Linked DNA regions of Homo sapiens. The protein of the gene in region 1 purifies or fractionates together with the protein of each later gene. This does not show direct contact. Each region holds a gene or a part of one and is shown in the gene's direction. Other genes may lie near its edges.

Region 1 (8,045 bases):
TAAGTCTCAGCTCTTTTAAGTTGCTCAATTGAGAAAACAGTTTCATTGTTATTTCTACTATACTGTAGTAATACAGTCACGTGAAATGTATTGAGACAAAAACAAGATTAGTTTTAGAATTAAGAAAATACAAGTTTCATGGAGATGTTTATTTGTCATAGGAAATTAATTTAAACTTTTTCCTTTTAGGGCAAATCCAGACAGAACCTTTGACTTGGTGTTGAAAGTGAAATGTCATGCCTCTGAAAATGAAGGTATGTGTCTTCTGTGTTCTGTTATTTGACAAGGTCTCTTTTTTTTGGGACAAGATCTCATTCTGTTCCTCAGGCTGTGCAGTGGCATGATCAGGGCTCACCACAACCTCTCCTTCCCGGGTTCAGGTGATCCTCCCACCTCAGCCTCCCGAGTAGCTGGAGCTACCAATGCACACCACCATGCTCAGCTAATTTTTGTATATTTTTTTGTGGAGACAGGGTTCACCACGTTGCCCAGGCTGGTCTTGAACTCCTGGGCTCAAGTGATCCACCCACCTTGCCCTCCCAAATTGTTGGGATTACAGGCGTGAGCCACTGTGCCTGGCCTGTTCTGTTAATTCTTAAAATAATTGATTGAATCTGTCAAAGCAAGTGTTAATATTGTGGACTGCTGGAACATGGTAGTAATAGGAAAATAATACTACTAAATGTGTATTCTGCATTGAGTGTCTCAAGTTGCTGGTAATAAAATAGGTGTTAAGTCTTTGCCCTGGGATTGTAAAAATCATGAATGTTATCAGTGCAGCTTGAATTTCAGGTGTGTTGTTAAGCCCATATAACTTACAACTCAGCTTCACCATTCGTTGGTAAAGTTATCATTAGTTTTGGTGAAAGGGCGAATCTTTTCATTTTCTTTCATTTATGTTTGGAAATTTAGTGTCTTTTTTTAAACATTAGTGCACATTCTCCTGCTAGTACCAATGGAAACTACACCACTTCCCTTCTGATGTTTCCAGAACGCAGAATGCAGACTGAGTAGCCCCTTCTGTTGGATTTACTCCAATAGCACAGCACTTTTGCAGGGAGGTAAACGATAGTGTGAAATTACTTGGAAGGGTTTCAGCTGTCAGTTCCGTACAATTTCCTGAAAAGATGAGAGCATAATACTTTAATGTCATGATTTTCATCATTTCCCTCCACTTTTGTCATATTGTGTATTGTGCATATGTGTGGTAGGCGGCAGGGTTAGCAGACAAGAATAAGGAATTCTTTTCTTGCCTATTTTCTTTTAATGTGTTCTTGCATGGTATGTCTTTCTAGATACTTAAAGTATATGTCTTTACTTGCTGTGTGCTTAGACCCTGGATAGCATGATGATTAAGCATAGGGGTTTCGTGGAGACTGATTGGCCATCCTAAAGCCTTGGAGGAAAGTCTGCTGACAATTTTAGCTTCAGAAACTATCCAGCAATTACCTACTCTTAAGTAATTTGGAGCTGCACACCTTAAAATAGAGAAGCCCAACCCAGTTGTGGTGAAATGGGCATGGCTAATTTTAGTATGAAGTCACATATTGTTGGCTCCACCAGCCCTACTACTGTACTCCTGGTCTATCTGAACTGCAGCTGTGGTCAGGTTTGTCTATTGGCAAGGAGTGATCCTAGGTTGTAGGGAGCCTTTTCTAGTTGATGAAGTTATCTTTTATTGTCCTGTATGTAGTAAAGTTTGTCCATTTGCATTATTTTGAGCCCCAACCGGGTCCTCTTTGAAGAATGGATATATTAGGTAGAATGGATACTCAAATGGATACATTATGTTTTCAGCTCCAATTTAATTCTATTCTATAGTGGTTTATGATATAAGTTAATCTAAAAAATATCTACCACAACATTACCGAAGGTGCGTGAAGTAACGCTCATCTGATATTGCTTGTAAAGGCGTGGCACGGTGGCTCACGCCTATAATCCCAGCACTTTTGGAGGCCGAGGTGGACAGATCATCTGAGGCCAGGAGTTCGAGACCAGCCTGACCAATATGGTGAAACCCCATCTCTACTAAAAATACCAAAATTATGCAGGCATGGTGGCCTATGCCTGTGATCCCAGCTACTGGGGAGGCTGAGGCACGAGAATCAGTTGAACTGGGGTTGTGGAGGTTGCAGTGCGCCGAGATAGCACCACCACACTCCAGCCTTGGTGACCAAGTGAGACTCTGTCTCAAAAAAAAAAAAAAATCTATATAGATATATAGATATATTTATAGATACATATATTTATAGATATATATTTATAGATATATATTTATATATATTTATAGATATATATTTACATATATATTTATATATATATTTATAGATATATATTTATATATTTATAGATATATATTTATATATATTTATAGATATATATATTTATATATATTTATAGATATATATTTATATATTTATAGATATATATTTATAGATATGTATATTTATAGATATATATTTATAGATATATATTTATAGATATATATTTTTATATATATTTATAGATATATATACACACACACACACACAACAGGCTAATTTCACTTGGAAAATATGGATTCTCTAATTTTAAATGTGTATTAAAGTGATCTTGTTAAAAGATCAATTTGCCTTATATAACACCCAATCTATGCATGTGTCAGAGAGATTGTGGTCTTCTTATAAAGGCTTTTGAGTGGTTTACTCCCTTCTTCCTCTTTTTGCTCTTTTCCACTTTTCATGAGCTAGTTATTCCAGTTTGTATCTTCTACTTCTGCCCTGCTTTAATATTACACCTTGTCTTTTTGCTGTTGTTATTTAAATCACTACTTTTTAGAAACATCTTCATTTGTATTTTAACAGTTTATATCTAGCCTGGTAAAGTTGTAAATATGATAAATGGTTAAAGTAAATAATGTTGGCTTCTTTGTAGGTTGCAAATAATCCATTCTATATGGCTAAATGGCAGAAAATTCTAAAGATATTTTAAAAAACTAAACTCAGCCATGTAAGCAGCAGTAACCTTTCTTCTTTTATTATGACTTAAATAGTATGAATATGGCTAATATTTTAGGATCTAACAAGTAATAACTATAATCAGTAACTATAATAAATAACAAATGATAAATTAGTAGCTATAAATAATAAAATCAATAACTATAAGAGGGCTATAAAAGTAAATTTTTTTGCCAAATTGAGAGATTTATGTTTCTGTAATATTTTATCAATGTTCTACTTTACAGCTAAATCTTAAATAGAAAAATATATGAAAAATATTTTAAAAGTTATTGGAATCCTCATATTTAACTGTTAGTACCTATTTGTTTTAATGAGGCTCTGATATGTGCATTATCAGCTTGTTTAAGGTACGATAATTTTTTTTTTGCTAACATTAAATGATCATGGGTGAAATTCTTAAATAGTAATAGATTGGAAAACAAAATGTATAAATTAGGATGCTTTGGAGTACAAACATAAGATTGGTTTAAATAATAGAGAAACTAGAGAAACTTGATATAGTTCATACAAGAAGTCGTCAAACATCGATATAGTTCATACAAGAAGTCGTCAAACATCCAGGTGCTTTCTGCTTCTCATTTCTGCCACTCACAGTAATGGTGTCATTGGAGGGCTTAGATTTCTTGCGGTTATAAGACTGTCAGTGGAAGTTGGAACTCTGCTTTTTTGTTTGTGACTCTGGGGGTGACAGACACTGGCTTTACATGTCTCTATTTAGAGCCAGAAAGTTTCTTTTTTCAAATCCCCTAGAAAGCCTTTCCTTAGATCCTGGTAGCCTAAGTTGGCATGCACCTGACCACTCCTGAAATTATCATTGGTGGGGTAGAGGTAAAGGGGTTGGTGGCAAGACTATTGTGATTGATTTATTTAAATTGGCAATGAATAGATGTTGAGAAATCAATTAAAATGCTTTTGTTAAAGAACTTTTAGAATATATAATTTTTTGTTGACTGATCAAATAGAAAATGTATTTAGAGTAAATTTGGTTTATACTAAGATTGGTGACATTATGTTAAGGTATTTGGCATGCTTCTCTTGTTCATTTTTCATAGGTAAGTCTAAATGTTTTCATTTATCCTGAATAGCTTAGATAAGTATCTTCAGAGACAGGTTGTTAATTAAATTTTAGTTAACAGTGTGAAATGACATTAGCTTTTAAAATATAACTTGATAAAGCTCCTCTGGTAAGATTGTGATCTTTATCTGGTCTACTGCTATTTGGACTTGTTTCAGAGGCATTATATTGATTTTTTTTTTTTTGAGAACAACACATTTCAGAACATTCTGGAAAATAGCTTGTTAGTTTCATATGGAGTGCTCTACAAATCTAAAAAAATGCCATAAGAGGGGTTGGTAGTATTTCCCTATAGTGTCCCCTATGTGTTAGTAGAATTTGTTCTGGTGGTGTCTGACAGATTAGTTGTGGCATTTTTTTTTTTAATGGAGGTTTCCCTGGCAGAACAACCTCCCAGTAACTTCTGCTCCAGCTGTCCAAAAGTGAAGTGCCAAAATTTAGATCTTAATGCTCTTCCTGGTAGATCTCCAAGATAATTGCTAGTGTTCTTATTCTTTTTGTTGTCTGTCTTCCTTTTAGCAGGCAGGGAAGTACAGCCAGCAGTGATGGCCTCTCCTCAATTCTGTTAACAGAAGTCATTGTTACCATACTGTCCCCACCTTCCCCAAAGTGACTTAAGACTTCAGGGAAATGAAAAGTAACTTTTCGTCAATAAAAGATTGGGTATGCCTCTAAGCATTTCTCTTCTGGGAAGTGGCCTTGGTACTCTAGCTTTCTCTTTTTTAATTTTGTTGATAGTTTATTCCAAGTAGTAATAGTAGCAGTAGTAGTAGGAGGAGGAGGAGGAGGAGGAAAGGGAGGAGGAGGAGGAAGAGAAGGAGGAGGAGGAGCAGGAGGAAGAGGAGGAGGAGAAGGAGGAGGACGAGGAGGAGGACGACGAAGAGGAGGAGGAGGAAAAGGAGGTGGAGGAGCAGCAGCAGCAGCTGCAGCAGCTAATATGTTGTACTTATTCTGTGCTGGGCAAAATTCTGGATATTTTTCATGTACTATTTAAGCCTCACAAAAATCTTATGATATAGGAAATGCTTGTTTCCATTTGGCACATGAAGAAACTGAAGAACAGAGAAATGATGAAACTTGCGCAGGGTAGTCTGTCCAGAGTCTGTATTTTAACTACTGCTGTGTTGCCTCCCATTGCATAGTGACTTCACGTGTATAGGTGGTTTTATCATGCGAGGAAATATTTGAGTATAAACTGTATGTGGTACAAATCATTTTTTCCAAATGGGAATACAGTGTGTTCCCTAAAATTAATGAATCCAATATAATTCCACCTAAAACAATTACTGAGTTTTTTCTTTGTGGTTGCAGAGCCTAACTCATCCCATTTCCCTCCCTGTCACTTTTCATTTTTAGGATTTGCATCTTCATATTTAGTGAATCTTTGATCTAATAGTTCTGGCTATTTAATAGTAGTTTTAAAACATCTTTAGCACGTCTTGTTTTCTTTATTCCTTTCTTTTTACCTAGAACAGTTTCTCTTAGGAACAAATTCTTCTTTGCTACCAGCTTTCTACTTTGATCTGCCTATCCAACCCAGTCTCAAATTATCAATTTTTCTTATCTGCAACTTATGTTAACAGTTTAACTGCCTTTCACTTTTTTGTTAAATTAGAGCCTTAAGCCAAAGAATTCTTAGTGTCCTCCATGCCCTGCACAAGAAAGGTATCTCTAAACTTACTTTTTGCATTTGATAACTTTTTGTCTATAGTGATACTATCTACACTAGACTCTACAACATTTTGCTTCTGCTTGGTATTTTAGCACTTATTGTACTATTATAGATATGTTTAATATGGTCATTTAGAGAAATACTGATGTGTCTAAATGTATGTTTGCCCTGCTTGAGGTAAGTTCTTCATGAACCAGAACTTATTAATTTGTATTCTTAAGAAAAAACTTAACACATCTGACATGTTTAATGAATATTTACAGAATGAATAAAAGAAACTGGGGCTGGGTGCAGTGGCTCACACCTGTAATTCCAGCACTTTGGGAGGCAGAGGCAGGTAGATCATTTGAGGTCAGGAGTTTGAGACCAGCCTGGCCAACATAGTGAATCCCTGTCTCTACTAAAAATACAAAATTTAGCGGGGTGTGGTGTCAAGAGCCTGTAGTCCCAACTACTTGAGAGGCTGAGGCAGGAGAATCACTTGAACCCAGGAGGCGGAGAGAGATTGCAGTGAGCTGAGATTGTGTCACTGCATTCCAGTCTAGGTGACAGAGGGAGACTCTATCTCTAAAAAATAAAAAATAAAAATAAATTGGATCTAGCTTAATGCTTGGCCATTGAATAAATGAATGTTGATTACATTAATCCACAGAGAGCTGCTTGTAGAAATGATTTTAAATGTGTGCTGGTATGACAGTACAGGGGCATTAGAAATAGAAGTCCATATATGTCTTGGAATGGGCTGTTTTGGAATACCCCATCCTCAAACTCTTTTCATTCAGTGCTTATGTCTCCTTTCCTCTCTTCATAGCAAAATATTTATAAGAACAGTTGCTATATATGTTTGTGAATTTACCTTAAAACTCATCTATAACCATTCATACATACTAAAACCCAACAAAACTCTAACATTTGGAAAATAGAACCTTGAGGAATCATACAGATAATAAAGTAGTTTAGGAGGTATTGCATTATTGTCCAACATGGAAAAAGTCTGAGTAAAATGTGGTTACCATGATAGTTGTTTTTGCTGTAACTTTGTGTTCATTTAAGAACTCTGAGTCTCTCAATTCAGATGCACTAGGATAAATTAGAGTAATGCAAACTGTATAAGCTAAATTGTTGAAGAAAATGAAACTGTGACCAGGCATGGTGGCTGATACCTGTAATCCCAACATTTTGGGAGGAAGAGGTGGGAGAATCCCTTGAGGTCAGAAGATCAAGACCAGGCTGGGCAACATAGCGAGGCTCCCATCTCTATTAAAAAATAAAATAAAATGAAACTGTTTTTTCTTTTGCACTGCTAGCCAGGAACAAAATGTAATGTGATTCTTCAGAACCATGTCCTTGGGTTATGCCCTTCTTGATTTATATAGAAAATAGTTGAGAATATATGTACTTTTATATGTGGCTTGGTGCATTACATCCTCCTTCACATAGCTGCCTGCAAGTGTAAAAAGCAAATCAAATTTCACTGTTCAGTATTTGTTGATTATTACTTTCATAGGTGTGTTGCAAATTTTACATTTTAATAGTTTGGTTATCACTTTCTCATTAGGTGCTTTCATTTGTTTACATGTTCTTTATTTTTGCCGCTTTAATCTAAGGTGACCTCTTGGTTTTTGATGTTCATGATTTCCACTGTAAAATGTCAGAGGCTGCTTGGCCTCTGCTGCAGATTTCACAGTGGTATGCTTTAAGACTGTTGTTTTGTCACTGCTGTGTTGCCACAGTGCAAGTTTGTTCAGGTTTTTTCTTATAACTTTGTTTTCTTGACTTTCAAGGTGATATGTTCCTGATGTGCTTTTGATAATATTCTCTCATTTTCAGATTTTTCTTAGGCTCAGATAATATATTCTTTTTCTCTAAATTTTCATGTTTTATTTGCAAGTTAGGGGATAATAATTTACTGTGTACAGTATACATTTTAAAGTGTTCATATAATACTAGCAATAGACATGTTTAGAGTGCTTTACGCAGATGGCCATGGTACTTCAGATAACAATGAGAATATCACATTTGAGCTCTTGGATTTTTAATCATTTCCAAAATAATACTTCTTCCTTGGAAATAAGCTTAATGTTTAACATTGAAAAACTTTTCCCACTTTCAAACTCTTGATTTATCTCAAGTAGTAATTTAATTTTATCTATAGAAAGTAATGTCTTGGTTCACGTTTCTGTGATAGGTCAGTCACTGGCCTTGTGGGGGAACTTGCTAAAAGGTGATCCTGACTTGACCTTTTAAAAGTATTTATTTAGGAGACTGTGGTACTAATTCTTATGACACTGAATAAGAG
Region 2 (7,038 bases), on another chromosome or scaffold:
GAGGAGGGTTGCACGGCTGGGAAACAGCAGCCATGGAGCCTGAATCCAGATTTTCTGTCTCTACATAGAATTCTCTATAGTCTTTTCCCGCTCTCAGGTCCTCCCGCTCTGCTTCAGATTCTTGAGTCTCTACTGTTTCTTGGTTTGTACTGCTTAGAGATATCTGATATCAGCCATTTGCATCTTTGTATTCTCTCTCTGAAAGTAATTGTCCTTCATTTTGTCTTGGATTATAAAGGCAGTTCTCTGTAAGAGGACTGTCTGGTATCAGCAAACAAGCCGTGGCAACTCAGAGTATGCCCTTGCAGATAAGGGTGACCTGCTTACCAGCCCACACTTGGTTTCTATCAGCCTGCTTTCGCTTATCCTGGAAGGAAAACTGAAAACCTGGATGACTGAAGGGAAACTTCCCTTCTTCCACCTGCATGGTGAGCCGTGGGATGGCTGCTTCCAGAGCTACCCTCGGTATCACTCCTCATTCTTATGCTAGTGGCTTGAGCTGGTAATAGAACCCACTGGGGAATGTGTGGAACATTCTTGGAGAATAGATGTGTGGGCTTGCGTATTTCTTCACTACGTCTTCTCTGTGACTTGGCCCTTTCCTTGGTCTTAAGTAGACAACCACTCTGTTTTCCCAAATTTCTGAAAGCTCAGAAATGAGCTTTTCCCATCCTTAACTATATAATAGCACACAAAATAGTCAGTAGTTAGATGTGAACAGATAACCCTATTTGGGTAACTACTGACTACCCATCCAAATTCCTCCTGAATTTCAAGGATCTCAGCCATCCTTAACATTTGATTTTTGCTGTCTGATCCATTCTTGATAACACATGTTTCATTTGAGAGGCAAGAATTGTCCTCCTGGGCTCCAGCAGTGTTAGGCACACAACACCCTCACTCTTGATGCTGGAGGATGAGAATGGTGAGCAGAGTGTGACTTGGATGAACAGAATCAGCTCCCTGTCATCATGTTTATCATTAGTAATGCCCATTAATAGTAATTAATTACTATTTTATTAACAACTATTATAACTATTGCTATGATTACTACTAATTAGTTTTAATTGATCCTCTCCACATGGGCCTTTGCATTTGATAGCACTGCTAACAATCTGATGAAATGAACAAAGCAGGTACTTCAGTAGTCCCATTGGGCAGATGGAAATACTGAGGCACAGAGAAGTGAGGTGACCTGGGTGAGGTGGCCCAGCTTGCTGTGGCTGTAGGACCTGTGCTCCGCCTCAATGTCACAATGCCCCCTGAGAGGGGACACGTGAGTGGGTGGGGGATGGAGCTGCGGCTTTTTTTGTTTGGAGGCCTTGATTTGATTCAATATCTGCCTCTCGTGGGTGCAAGTGGTGTTGAACTCACCCCTCCACAGAACTCTTGTTTTGTTTTGTTTTGTTTTTGAGATGGAGTATCACTGTCACCCAGGCTGAAGTGCAGTGGTGCAATCTCAGCTCACTGCAACCTCTGCCTCCTGGGCTCAAGCAATTCTCATGCCTCAGCCTCCCGAGTAGCTGGGACCACTGGTGCGAGACACCACTCCCAGCTAATTTTTGTATTTTTAATAGAGATGGGGTTTTACCATATTGGCCAGGCTGGTCTCAAACTCCTGACCTCAAGCAATCCACCTGCCTTGGCCTCCCAAAGTGCTAGGAGTACAGGCGTGACCCCCCAGTGTCTGTCCCTTCCCTGGTCTGTGAGCTTATGAGGACTTGTGTTATTTCTCTCTCCCCCACACCTGGCTTGCTGCCTGGTACATTATAGACATTCAATCTGCTTTTCAACTCAAGTTCTGCCTCTTTGGAAGGAAGCAGGAAAGGAGGATGAGGGAAAGGCAGGTGAGAGAGGTGGGTGGGACACCTTCCAAAGGAGAAGTCGAATGGCTCAGAGATGGAAAACTGAAGGTGGTGTCGGTTCCTGTTCTGGGCTGCACGAACCAACCCGACAAATACTAGAGTGAGCCATCCCAGGAGCCAGCATTTAACAGCCGCAGCCTTATGTGAGGCATGCAGACAGTTCCAGAATTTCCTTGATTTCTCCCAAAGTTTCTGCACTAGTTGTATCCACATATTTTTTTTCTGCTTTTATATTAAGAAATTCTTATGAAGCTGCACATCCATTAAATAACCGTGTGACATTTGACAGATGACTCACTATCCCAAACCTCAGCTTTCTCATCTGTATAGTGTGACAATGGTCCCTCACAGACTTGTAAGAATTAAATGTGTGTGTGTATATATATATGTGTGTGTGTGTGTGTGTACATGAGGTGTGCACAGAAGTACACATGCTGCTGAAATCAAATTGGTGGGCTACCTGAAAATGCAGAAAAACATTAAATTATGGGCTTTTTTGCAGTTTGCGATTTTCCTTCCATAAATATTTTTCTGAAATGCTCTTTTTAAATTTCAAGAGTTTTTGGGGTACAGGTGGTTTTTGGTTACTTGGATTAAGTTATTTAGCGGTGATTTCTGAGTTTTAGTGCACCCATCACCTGAACAGTGTACACTGTACCCAATATGTAGTTTTTTATACCTCACCACCCCCTCCCAACCTTCTTCCCTGAGTCCCCAAAGTCCATTATATCATTCTTATACCTGTGCTCACAGCTTAGCTCCCACTTATGGGCAAGAACATGCAATATTTGGTTTTCCATTCCCGAGTTACTTTAGTTAGAATAATGGCCTCCACCTCCATCCAAATTGCTGTAAAGGACATTATTTCATTCCTTTTTATGGCTGAGTGGTATTCCATGGTGTGTATATACCACATTTTCTTTATGGATTTATTGTTTGATGGGCACTTAGGTTGGTTCCATATCTTTGAAATTACGCAACATGTGTGTGCATGTGTCTTTTTCATATAATGATTTCTTTTCCTCTGGGTAGATACCCAGTAGTGGGATTGCTGGATGAAATGGTAGCTCTCCTTTTAGTTCCTTAAGGAATCTCCATACTGTTTTCCATAGGGGTTGTAGTAATTTACATTCCCACCAGCAGTGTAAAAGTGTTCCCTTTCACCACATTCATGCCAACATCTATTTTTTTTATTTTTATTTTTTACTTTTTAATTATGGCCATCTTGTAAGAGTAAGGTGGTATCTCATTGTGGTTTTCATTTACATTTCCCTGATGGTTAGTAATGTTGAGCAAATGCTCTTTTTTTATATCCTCTGTTGTTCTGCTCTTCTACCAGCATCTAGATCTGGCTTGAATGACATTTAGCACGGACTTGGGTCTATATTATTTTAAGTGAAATTGATTGACAGCATGACTTCCAATAGTTTGGCTCTCTCAGGCAACCACAGATCCAATGCAGTCTCCTATTGCCCATTGTACAGGTGAGTACACTGAGAACCAGAGGAAGGGATGGCTTCTCCAGCCACCAGGTGCATTATGAGTCACCTATGTCTGGTACCCAGACCACAGGCCCAGGCCCTGAGACGTCCCAGAGCTCGGGAGTGGGGTGGGGTTGGATGGATGGGCTGCCTGCTCCCAGGCTGCACCTGGGAGGTGAGAGAGGGCCATGTGAACATCTGTGCCAGGCGGCTGGTATTCTATAGCAGTGCCAGGGTGCCCACACCCATTCCTGTCCTGTCCCAGGGAAGGAATCTGGGGTGGACGATTCTGCTCAAAGATGATCACAGGGATCAGGGCTGTGGAGCTGGGAGGGGATGGCGTGTGTCACTCTGGTTTCTGGTGCACTCACTTTTATGAGGTTTACTGGGTGCCAAACACTCAGGTCCTAGCAAGCCAGGCCCTCATCAGTGAATCTACAGAGCACCTTGGGTGTACCTAGCACAGTGCCCCTTGCTATTTGGGATGGGAGAGAAAAAGTAGGCCTGATCTTTCCCAAGGGGTGAGGAAGGGAACTCCCAGACGCATTGCTCTCTGAGTGAGACACTTGGCAGGGCCAGTTGGCCAGGCTGATCCTGGGAAAGGGGTGGAGGTGGCAGAGGCAGGCTTAGTAGGTCGTTGGGCAGAAGTCCACCCAGTTTGTAGATAAGGCTTGTGGGGCTGGGAGCCTAGAGGAACATACCTGGAACCTGAAGGCTGCAGGACCAGGACCGAAAAAGGACTAGGAGGCTGGGATCAGCAACAACTGGGGAAGGCCAAGGAAGACTGACCTGAGGGGAAAGGAGAAACTGGGGAGGTGAGGTTAGTCCAAGGGGCAGTGTGTGTGTGTGTGTGTGTGTGTGTGTGTGTGTGTGTGTGTGTGTTGTCTGTTTCTCTGTCTTAGAGAAGACAACCAAGGGCCAAGGTGATCACTCAAATAGACAGACATTCTGCGTCCTTCTCATGCCTAGCCCTAGGGCTGGATCACCAGTCTGGCCAAGAGTTCCATGGGTCTGTGCTGGCTGCCAAGATGCTGTGGCCATGCTTTCATTTATGGTCTACCAGAAAGCTATCCATGGAAAAAGGGATTCAGAACCAGAAGACCTGATTTTTGAGTCCTGAATCTGCTAACTGTGCAGCTATAGGAAACTCAGATTTCTCATGTGTAAAAATGGGTCTAGCAGCACCCAAACTTGCAAAGTTGGTATGAAAAATACATAATGTCTATGAATAACCGTATCTACTAATATGTGCATGGAAGTACCCTGTTCTGCAGAGACAAAGACAAAGAAGAAAATAAGATGAGGAAAATCAAAGCTGGCCCCCACCCACAATGTTTCAATGCATATTTACCCAAATTTTTTACTTTTTGCTGATTGAGAAACACATGTGGTTACTTATTGATATATATAAGAACTCTTAATTGTTAAGAACATTAGCTCTCTATCTTGTACACATGTTCCAATTTGTGATTCCAAATTTTACATATTCTGTAGAGTTTTAACACGTTGCAAAAAGATGGTATATCCATATATGCCATCTTTTCCTACATGGTTTCTGGCTTGTGTATCACACTTAGGAAGTTCTTTTTCACTCTAACATTATGAAAAGGTTTTATTCCAACACTTGTAATTTTATTTTTGAAATGATTTGTTTGTTTCCTAATAGCATTTATGGAATTGTTCACCTTTTCTCGAATGTTCTGAAATGCCATCTTGAATTTTTTACTATTTACAGAATGCTTCCCATTAAAAAAAAATTTTCTAAATTTTCTATTTCTCTCCTTTTATTTCTTACTTGTTTAGATTTTTGTGTGGAAAGATTTTCAACATTTTGTACTAGAAGCTTTTTAGGGTAACCTAGGATCTTACCGGAGATTGCTTAAAAATATTTTCTTTCAAAATCAATTATTATTAATTTTAAATCATTTATTGATTAAGCTCCCCAATTGGAGTTGAATTCAATGACTGAAAATACATTGCATTTACTCAGTCTTTGCCTTATTGCTTGGAGGTACAGTATAATTTGTTCTAGTGGGATTTGGGCTTTGCAGTGTTTCACACTCTTGGTCACTGGCTCCCATAGCTGTCTGTCACAAGCATCAACTGGGGATCCTGTGGAAACCAAAGAAGAGTGGGGACACCCAGGGAAATGCAAAGTATGATCTGGGATGGTGGCCAGGAATCTCTTTCTCTCTCTCCCTTCTCTACTATAAATGGACATCTGGGTTGTTTCCACTTTAGGTCTATCACATAAAGCTGCTATGGACATTGCAGTACATGTCTTGGTAAACCCACAAGCACTCATTTCCTGTTGGGCATATACCCTGAGGTACAATGAATGGGTCAAAGGGTAAGCATATGTTTACCTTTTATAGATCCTGCCAAGCAATTTTCCAATCAACACGTTGGTGTCGGTTTGCACACCCACCCGCAATATAAGAGAGTTCCACTTGCTCCACGTCCTCGTGTGGCTGGTCCTTTTAATCTGAGCTATTCTAGTGGGTGTGTAGTGAGTTCTTCTTGTAGTTTTGTTTTGCATGTTTCTGATGATTAATGATGTCGAGCACCTTTTCAGCTGCTTATTGGCCATTTGGATATCTTCTTTTGTGAAGTATTTGTTCATGTCTTTGCTTAGTTTTTAAGTTGTTGTCTTTTTTCAGTCGATTTGTAGAAGTGCTTAAAAACAGGCATGAGCCTTTTATCAGACACAGACATTACACGTACCACTCCCAGCTTGTGACTTGCCTTTGTACTGTCCTAGGTAATTTTAGAGGAACAAGGCTCTTAATGTTAATGAAGTTCCATTTATCATTTTGTAAAAATGGTTAATACTTTCTGCCTATCTCATGGTCACAAAGATTGTCTACTATTAATATATTTTCTTCTAGAAGCTTTATCATTTTGATTCTTGTGGGTTTTGAGGTTAAAAAATATTAAAGACCAATAGTTTCATATAGTCCAATCTAATACCTTTCACATTTAGGTCTGTGACTTCTCAAATTAATTTTTGTATGTTGAGTAAAATAGTCACTATTTATATTTTTCCTGTATGGACATCCACTGGTGTTTTGTTGTTGTTGTTGTTGTTTTCATCATTCATTGAAAGGATCATCCTTTCCTTTGAACTGTAGCGATGCCCTTGTCACATATCAGGTGACTTCCTGTGTGGCTCTGTTGGATTCTCTAGTCTGTTCCATTGGTCAGCTTGTCTGTCTCTGTTCCAATACCTTAATACTGTGGCTTTACAGCCATCTTGATACCTGGTGGCTGAATGCTTTAAAAGACCTGGGAATCATCAGGTGGGAATCACTTGCTTTGGAGTGGGATTCTCAACCTTGAGTACTCATTAAATCCCCTGGAGAGAAGTTCTTAAAGGCACCCTCACCCAGGATTTATCCTGCATCAACTAACTCAAAATCTCTAGAGGAATGTTCTGAAAATAGGTATTTCTAAAGCTCCTGGATGATTGTAATGCACTCCCAGGATGGAAACAACTGCTTTAGAAATAGGTTATTCCCATTTTGCAATTAAAGAACCAGAAGCCCAAAGTCACATATACAATTTCTGGAGGCATTAGATTGTTCACTCACTTTCTCCAGGATGCAAAATCCTTGATATACTTCTCTTGCTCTCAGTTTTCTCCTAGAGAACACCTACTTATCCTTCAAAACCCAGCTTAAGAGTGCCCCATC

Evidence for each region.
Region 2: the proteins of DENND1B (region 1) and SERPINA12 purify together in Homo sapiens (affinity purification with mass spectrometry; 3 studies listed by BioGRID and IntAct, with this or other methods). This does not show direct contact.

The regions. Positions count from the first base shown.
Region 1 is NC_000001.11:197,765,077-197,773,121, reverse strand, and holds part of DENND1B (DENN domain-containing protein 1B), read left to right. Parts: intron 1-189; coding exon 190-254; intron 255-8,045. UniProt on the Homo sapiens protein: Guanine nucleotide exchange factor (GEF) for RAB35 that acts as a regulator of T-cell receptor (TCR) internalization in TH2 cells. Acts by promoting the exchange of GDP to GTP, converting inactive GDP-bound RAB35 into its active GTP-bound form.
Region 2 is NC_000014.9:94,506,470-94,513,507, reverse strand, and holds the start of SERPINA12 (serpin A12 precursor), read left to right. Parts: upstream 1-4,038; 5' UTR 4,039-4,166; intron 4,167-7,038. UniProt on the Homo sapiens protein: Adipokine that modulates insulin action by specifically inhibiting its target protease KLK7 in white adipose tissues.